3 separate regions of the Homo sapiens genome follow, and regions 1 and 3 are each linked to region 2. Evidence: fine-mapped expression QTL. A gene starts in region 2. Each other region holds a variant in brackets. All regions are shown on one strand. Distances are from middle to middle.

Region 1 (2,756 bases), 29 kb before region 2:
TGCAGTGGTGCGATCTTGGCTCACTGCAAGCTCCGCCTCCCGGGTTCAAGCCATTCTCCTGCCTCAGCCTCCCAAGTAGTTGGGACTACAGGCGCCCGCCACCACACCCAGCTAATTTTTTGTATTTTTAGTAGAGACGGGGTTTCACCGTGTTAGCCAGGATGGTCTCGATCTCCTGACCTCGTGATCCGCCTGCCTCGGCCTCCCAAAGTGCTGGGATTACAGGCATGAGCTGCCGCGCCCGGCCATACTGTTGTTGTTTAACACAAAGTAAACTATATGTTAAGTTTTGGTGTTTAATACGGAGAAAGAATTTCAAAAACCAGACCTGGTATTTTTTTTTTTTTTTTCACACGGAGTCTCTCTCTGTCACCCAGGCTGGAGTGCAGTGGCACGATCTCGGCTCACTGCAACCTCCGCCTCTGGGCTCAAGCAATTCTCCTGCCTTAGCCTCCCGAGCAGCTAGGATTACAGATGCCCACCACCACGCATGGCTAATTTTTGTATTTTTAGTAGAGATGGGGTTTCACCATGTTGGCCAGGCTGGTCTCGAACTCCTGACCTCCTGATCTGCCCACCTCGGCCTCCCAAAGTGCTGGAACTACAGGCTTGAGCCCCTGCGCCCAGCCCAGCCCTGGTAAATTTTTAAAATTGCCACATGTAATCCAGAAGTGTGATTAACTAAAGTCCTTTCCTCAGCTATAATGTTGATTGTGTGACTTGATAACTTATCCGTGGTGGCTCTTGGACCCCTGTGTGTCTTTGGAGCTCCAGGAGCACACGGACCCCTGGGCAGGTCCCTCCGACCCCACAGCTCTTCACCCCAACGCTCCCCAGCAGGTGCTTTTGAGGTGGCATTGGCGGTGTTTTTGTGTTTTACTGAACATGTAACTTCAGGGACGGGCCACAGAAATAGGAGAATGCCCATATTTAATTGCCTAATGCCTCCAGCAACATTTTACTCCCCCAAAAGTATTTTTGCTTTAAAACAAAATAGAAATGTCATGTTGTTTGCCTTTTTATTTGGCCAAATCCATAGCGACTATAACTAAACCAAAACATGAGCTAAGTAAATGAAAACTACTTTCTTCTGGAGGTTTATTTTGGATAAAATAGTTGAAGACAGACTACAATGAGACATTGTAAAATAAGACTAGAAAATAATTTAAGAGCGTATTTTAAGCAC[G/A]GGATTCCGACACACTCATAAACGTGTTTGCTCCCAGCTCTTACAAAAGAAAATAAGGTTTTTCTCCATCAAAAACAACCTAGTTAAACCAGTAAATCTTCCCAGTTCTGAAAATCTGAAGCAACTGATACTCCATTAAATGTGGAAACACTGTCTACTCAAAATATTTGTAATATTATGCAGTGACAAAAATTTCCCACACCTATATAGGGTTAACCATAGTTTTCAGCAAAGCAACAAGTGCTTTACTTATTTTGTCTTTTTCAGTTTATACAGAGCTCCAATTTCATGAAACCATACTGTGCCAAACCAGGAAATAAACAGCAACACTCTAGCGAAGCCACGCCAACCAAACGGATACTATCTCCTGTCCTTTTTACCAGCTTTCCTCTTCCCAGACAGCAAGTGCTTGGGCTTCATATCAAACACGTGTCTATCCGCCTCCCCTTTCTTCCCCAACCGATTCATCTTCTTCTGAGCATTCTTCATCATAGTCTTGGCTTTCTTCACCATCTAAAAGGAGGAGAAAAAAATAAAGTATGTTCATTACTTAAAACCAATTTTCCATTCTGAATTTCAACTACTGGGTAACAATCTGTTTAATGGCTCAGGTCTGCTCAGCGAAGAGACCCTGTTACATCTCTTTTCTCTTAAGCCCAGCACAGTTATCCCTGTTACATCTCTTTTCTCTTAAGCCCAGCACAGTTACCCCTGTTACATCTCTTTTCTCTTAAGCCCAGCACAGTTACCCCTGTTACATCTCTTTTCTCTTAAGCCCAGCACAGTTATCCCTGTTACATCTCTTTTCTCTTAAGCCCAGCACAGTTATCTGCAGGAACTCAATGAGTATTTTTGTATAAAGACTGGATGAAAATCATACCCAGGACAAGCTTTATACCCAGGACTAGATACACTTTAGACCTAGAAGGTTAGCACACATCTGTTTTAACTCCCTCTTACACAAGCTAAGGACTCAGGCCCATGAACCTGTTTTCCTCAGGTCTGACTGACAAGTGGCAATGCCAATATTAACAGCCAGGTTTCAAGATGGCAATGGCACAGAGGAGTGAAGCTCAGGCTTCCATGAAGGAGACTGCAGTTTATACACAGACTCTCCTGCATCTCCATTACCACAACGCTGAAACTAAAAGTTGTTGTGTTTAATAAAAGGACGTTTCAGCAAGACAGACTGTGTCCATCTTAAGTGTCTTTGCCAAAAGACGCTACAAATAAACTAAATGTGACTCAAGCTCTCCACCTGGGGGGAACAATCCTGCAACCTAAGGATGAGCAGGATCACCCGCCAATCAACCCAGGAGTTCCCTCTGCTGTTCCTCCCATGGGGGGCTTGCTGGACTTGAGGCCTCCTGGTGCTCAGCTGTGGCCACTTCCTGGCCCTCTTCAGACAGCAGGGTCTAAGCCCAGACTGCTAGTGCTGTCAGACCATGCTCTGGCCACCCTCCGCAAAAGCAAAGTGCCAAGGAGGGGTCCATCCAGGGCAGCTGTCAGGGGCATCCACCTGCACCCTGACCCGTGCTCTCCTCTAAAGGATGCCACAAAACGAGGGCAT
Region 2 (2,756 bases):
GGGAGGCTGAGGCAGGAAAATCACTTGAACCTGGGAGGCGGTGGCTGCAGTCAGGATCACACCACTGCGCTCCAACCTGGCCAACAGAGCGAGACTCCATCTCAAAAAGAAAGAAAGAAAATACTACAATCGATCAAGAGATGTGCCAGAACAACTGTCAGGAAGAAATAAGAAATGGTGGAGAGAAGTGGGGAAACAACTTTTGCTATGAAGGTAAAATACGAGACTCCCACAAAGCTTTCCAAGGCAAGCTCATCCCGTCCTTGAGACCTGAAGAAAAGGAGGCACTGACGAGGGGAAAACAGTCACTCTGCAGGGACTTCAGTAACTCCCTCTCGTGCAGGAGTCCCTGGGAGGCTCCAGTTGCCCGTCAATGTCTGTGTAATTGCGACCCAAATCGAATGTTCACTACATAAAAACGTGACTTCTTAAAAGTCCTAATACTAGGGCCGGGCGCAGTGGCTCACGCCTGTAATTCCAGCACTTTGGGAGGCCGGGGCGGGAGGATCACCCGGGATCAGGAGTTCGAGGCCAGCTTGGCCAACGTGGTGAAACCCCGTCTCTACTAAAAATACGAAAATTAGCTGGGTGTGGTGGTGCACGACTGTAATCCCTGTTACTCGGGAGGCTGAAGCAGGAGAATCGCTTGAACGCGGGAGGTGGAGGTTGCAGTGAGCCGAGACTGCGCTCCAGCCTGGGAAACAAGAGCGAAAAACTATGTCTCAAAAAAAAAAAAAAAAAAAAAAAGTCCTAATACTCAACACTTGTTGACTCATTCTTGCCACACCAACCAACGCTGTAAAAATTTAGTCTGGGCCTACTATGGTCTGAAAAGGAACAGGTATTCCCAAATCTAACAGTGAAAGAGAATGACTTAAAAATTATGAAACGTTAAATCACGAGAACAACGAACCCAGGATTCCTGAGAGGGGAGGGGGCTACGCCAAACCCAGAATCCGAAGGCTCATCACGGACCACGGAACGCTTCCTCCCTCACATGTCGGGGTCCCCCTCCACTCGCCCACATCGTCACCCGGGGCCCCTCCAGGGAACCCAACTCTGGGTGTACCCCCATCTCTGGGGGCCCTCAGTCTTTGGGTGGACCACGGTCTTAGGTGGACCCCGGTCTCTGGGGGATCCGATCTCTGGTGGACCCCGGATTCTGCTGGGGGAGGGGAAATGATCCCGAGTACGCGGCCAGACGGTCAGGCCCAGGAGCGGGGGATGGGCGAGCGGAAGGCGACCGCTCTCCCACGGCTACAGGCCCGGACCCTCCCCGGGGACCCAGCTGAGGAGAACGCGAAAGTTGCAGTGGCCCTCCCGGGGCCGCCTACCTTGGCGGACGGCACCACCGTAATTTTCTTGAAGTTGTAATGTGCCATGCCGGCAGCCGTATGCACGCGGGTACTTGGCACTCCCGGAACTTCCGCCGTCGGGCGCAGGTGGGACTTCCACTGTCGGGCGGTTGAGGTACGTCACTTCCGGGAGCTCAGCCAATCGTGTTCTGCGTGCTCTACGGCGCTTTCCGCGTCGCACAGCGCACCCGCCCGGCTTGGAGGTCAGCCACGGAGGGCGTGTGAGGGCCTCAGGAGCGAGGGTACAGAGGAGAGGACGCCCGGGTTTTAGGGGGAGCGCGGAGACTAAATTCCTGCTGAGTAAAGCGGGGGTTTCCGACAGACTGCCCTGCGGGTTTCTGGAGCGGGTTCAGGCCCCCAGCCACGCGCCCTGGGCCAGGGTTGGAGGGTCCGGGGTCTTGGGATTTGGGAGTTGCGGGGCTTAGGAGTCCAGAGGGTCTAGGGGATCCGGGAGTCTGGGGGTCCTGGGTCGCGGCGAGCCCCGCAAAGGAGGAGGAAGCCGCGCGTGCGGGGCGTGCCCAGCCTCTGGGTGTGGAGCAGATGACGCCCCTACCCCGGCCTCGCGCGTGGGACTTGATCCCGGGCCGTGGTGAGGAGGCCCTCGCGGCTTCCCTGCAGCCCTGCTTTCTCGTGCTTGTTAAATCCCAAAACGGGCGGAGAAGGGAAAGCCTGATCTAAGGCAAAAGAGGTGCAGCTGGTTCCGCGCAGTGCCTTAGGAGAGCCCAGGGAACAGTTGCGAGAGACAGTCCTGTGGGGTCCAACTGAGGAGAAGGTTGATGAGGATGGAGCCTTTACTGCTTTTATGTTTGTGAATAGAGTGGCCGCTCCCTTTGGGAACCCAGGGCCACATCCCTTAAATTAAACGTTAGGTAGGGCTGACTCAGTCAAGCAGTGTTCAGAGCTGCTGACTATATATTAACTCGTTTAATTTCTGCAACAGCCTCATGAAGTGCATGGGGAAACAAAGGCACACAAGGCTCGAAAGCACCCCGTGGTTGTGCAGCTGACAAGCTAACAGGCAGCAGAGGTGGGCTTTGAACCCAGGCAGCCTGGCTCCAGCAAACCTGCTTCTAACCATTAGCTATACTGCTTCTCACGCATCTGGGATGCCCCCCACTCTCCAATCCTTTTAAACAAGTCCTATTATTCTTACGCGAAAATACCTCTCATAAATTCCCAGCATTCCAATATTGAAAATCATTCTGGGTCATGCTTTTCTCATCTATTAACTATGCTTCCATTTTTGTGTCACAAGGCGGATAAGCATACCTCCTACATCTTTGTGGCACTTCTAAAGGAAGCTTCTAGGGTAATTAGGATTTGCTGGCTATGATCATTTGCTAAACCACAGGACAGTTCTGGCCACCATTTCCGAGATTAGCAAAGCTATGCTCATACTTA
Region 3 (2,756 bases), 22 kb before region 2:
CATGCAGATGGCAAGTATTGTATAAAAAGAATGTTCCAGAGAGCTCAGCTGAGAGAAGAAGGCAGGACAGCAAGTATTGTATAAAAAGCATGTTCCAGAGAGCTCAGCTGAGAGCAGAAGGCAGGACAGCAAGTATTGTATAAGCATGTTAGCATGTTTCAGACAGCTCAGCTGAGAGAAGAAGGCAGGATAGCAACTAATGGAGGACACGGTCTAAGGATGTTTTCGTTTTTTAAAAAGATGAGTAAAACTTGTGGACTTTTATATGCTAAGAAAAAGCAAGTAGGGAGGGGATTGAGGCAGGAAAAAGATGTGACACAGCGGAGCCCCCAAGGAAGAGGGTCCAGCACAGCAGAGTCCATTAAGGGCCTGGCGGAGATACAGGGTGGGGAAGGTGGTGCAGGGGGCACAGTCAGGATGGAGGGATGCAGGAGAATGAAGGGGCCCAGCATCTCCACCAGAGTCTCGGGGTGGGGGGAAGAGGTGCAGGAGGCACAGTCAGGATGGAGGGATGCAGGAGAATGAAGGGCCCAGCACAGCAGAGCCCATCCAGGGCCTGGCGGAGACACAGGGTGGGGGGGAAGGTGGTGCAGGAGGCACAGTCAGGATGGAGGGGTGCAGGAGAATGAAGAGGCCCAGCATCTCCACCAGAGTCTCGGGGTGGGGAAGGTGGTGTAGGGGGCAGAGTCAGGATGGAGGGATGCAGGAGAATGAAGGGGCCCAGCATCTCCACCAGTGTCGGGACAGGGAAGAGGTGCAGGAGGCAGAGTCAGGATGGAGGGGTGCAGGATAACGAAGGGGCCCAGCATCTCCACCAGAGTGTCCGGGGTGGGTGGGTGGAGGCGGCGGGAAGGGGGCAGGCCAGCATAGCAGAGCCCAGCCAGGGCCAGTATCTCCACCAGAGTCTCAGGGTGGGGAAGTGGTACAGGGGGCAGAGTCAGGATGGAGGGGTGCAGAATGAAGCGGACAGGCCCAGCTGAGCCGAAGCCATGCTGCTATCTTCCAGCAATACTACTATAATAAAAAGGAAAACAATCCGCAATTTAAAAAGTGACACAAACCTTCATGATGGCTGGATCAATATAATCAGCTATATTATGGCCTTCCCAGATTTCTGGTATCTTATCATGTTTTTCAGACAAATTCATTAAATCCCAGTACTCTAAAGTTAAAAAAAAGGTGGTTACGTTTACAGCAGTTTTTAATATCTTCAAGTACTACGTGCGCAAAATGAGTTGTGACTGACGGCAAATCAACGACTCCACTGCAGAAGAGAGCACGACGTGCAATTCCACATGCAGCAGCATCAACACATCAGCCTCATTCAACACCCACACGTGGAGAAAGCTACAGAAATCACCCCACCATCCCAAAACAACAGGAAACAACACATCAGCCTCATTCAACACCCACACGTGGAGAAAGCTACAGAAATCACCCCACCATCCCAAAACAACAGGAAACAACACATCAGCCTCATTCAACACCCACACGTGGAGAAAGCTACAGAAATCACCCCACCATCCCAAAACAACAGGAAACAATGGAAGAACCCCCACTGAGTGCTATCAGCATGCACCTTTCTTTGAGACAGAGTCTCACTCTGTCGTCCAGGCTGGAGGGCAGAGGTACAATTTCTGCCCACTGCAGCCTTG[T/A]CCTCCTAGGGTCAAGTGATCCTCCCACCTCAGCCTCCCGTGTCACTGGAACTACAGGCACATGCCACCACACCCGGCTAATCTTTGTATTTTTTGTAGAGACGGGGTTCTGCCATGTTGCCCAGGTTGGTCTCAAACTCCTGGGCATAAGGGATCCAAAGTGCTGTGATTACAGGCGTGAGCCACTGCACCTGGCCCTCAGGATGCAACTTTTAATCTTCAAGAAATTAAAAGTTGACAAATAGGCTGAAACACTTTTATTACTTATTAAAGTCTTTCCCCCATTTTCTGAAATACTTCACGTCCAATTGGCATTTTATAATAATGATCACACTCTGGCCCTTACTCTGAAGATCCAAAATATAATCATCTCCCATTTCCAGCTCAAGATCTCGTTCCTGCAATAGAAAGAGAAATTATCATCAGCTTCATTTTGCCTTTCAGATCCAGAAATGCTCTGCCCCTTGTCACTTGAAACAATCTTTTCTCCAATCCTCTCAGTATCAGTGGGGTTCACCTTCCATTTCTGGTAGGAAGGCTGTTTCTTATCTCCCTGTCTGCGGGGCCAGCCTTTGGGTTCTGGTAGGAAGAGGCTGTTTCTTATCTCCCTGTCTGTGGGGCCGGCCTTTAGGTTCTGGTAGGAAGAGGCTGTTTCTGGCCATCTGGGGACTGTCTATCCCACTCATGCATTTGGTTCACGGCCATCTTCCCTCAGGCCAAAGAGCCCCATGAGAGAGGCTTCTGCAGGGGGACTCACTGCTGTGTCCGCAGCCTGACGGGGCCAGTGTCTGGGCACCCGCGGCTCCTGTTCGATGCCCCAGGCCCCCACGATGGGCACACACAGCCTGCCTCCCCCCATGAGAACACTGGGCGAGAGCTTCGGCAGCATACCCTCTTCTTCCTGGACTCCTCAGTTTCCATCCTCTTCCTGCGAGCCACCACTCCTTCAGGGATGAAAGGGGGCCTCTCCTGAGAAGATCCCATATAAAATATTTATGTGAAATGCCTGCTGAATGAGAAACTTACAAAGCCGAAAAAGTAGAAACAAATTCCCTACGTGCAAGGGGAACAGAAAACCATACCCAGACCAATGAACAACCA

What was found. PIP is the estimated chance that this variant, and not a neighbour inherited with it, causes the effect.
Region 1: its variant is fine-mapped to the expression of GTPBP4 in NK cells (Gilchrist 2021, PIP 0.95). The same link has a PIP of 0.9 or more in B cells, CD4 T cells, monocytes and monocytes after LPS.
Region 3: its variant is fine-mapped to the expression of GTPBP4 in whole blood (TOPMed, PIP above 0.99). The same link has a PIP of 0.9 or more in NK cells and blood mononuclear cells.

Annotation. Positions count from the first base shown.
Region 1 is chr10:1,016,018-1,018,773 of GRCh38, reverse strand. It overlaps GTPBP4 (GTP binding protein 4), which reads right to left. Exons shown (of 17, transcript NM_012341.3): 17 at 1-1,699. The coding sequence ends at 1,547. Among named protein-coding and RNA genes, the nearest start is that of IDI2-AS1, 5.2 kb to the left of the region's middle. The variant G/A (reference allele first, on the strand shown) is at 1,187.
Region 2 is chr10:987,106-989,861 of GRCh38, reverse strand. It overlaps GTPBP4 (GTP binding protein 4), which reads right to left and starts at 1,428. Exons shown (of 17, transcript NM_012341.3): 1 at 1,335-1,428. The coding sequence starts at 1,382. It also overlaps a transcript of LARP4B not described here.
Region 3 is chr10:1,008,826-1,011,581 of GRCh38, reverse strand. GTPBP4 (GTP binding protein 4) reads right to left here. Exons shown (of 17, transcript NM_012341.3): 11 at 2,547-2,624; 12 at 2,002-2,053; 13 at 1,062-1,162. Among named protein-coding and RNA genes, the nearest start is that of IDI2-AS1, 12 kb to the left of the region's middle. RefSeq lists enhancers at 1,963-2,463, 2,464-2,756. The variant T/A (reference allele first, on the strand shown) is at 1,656.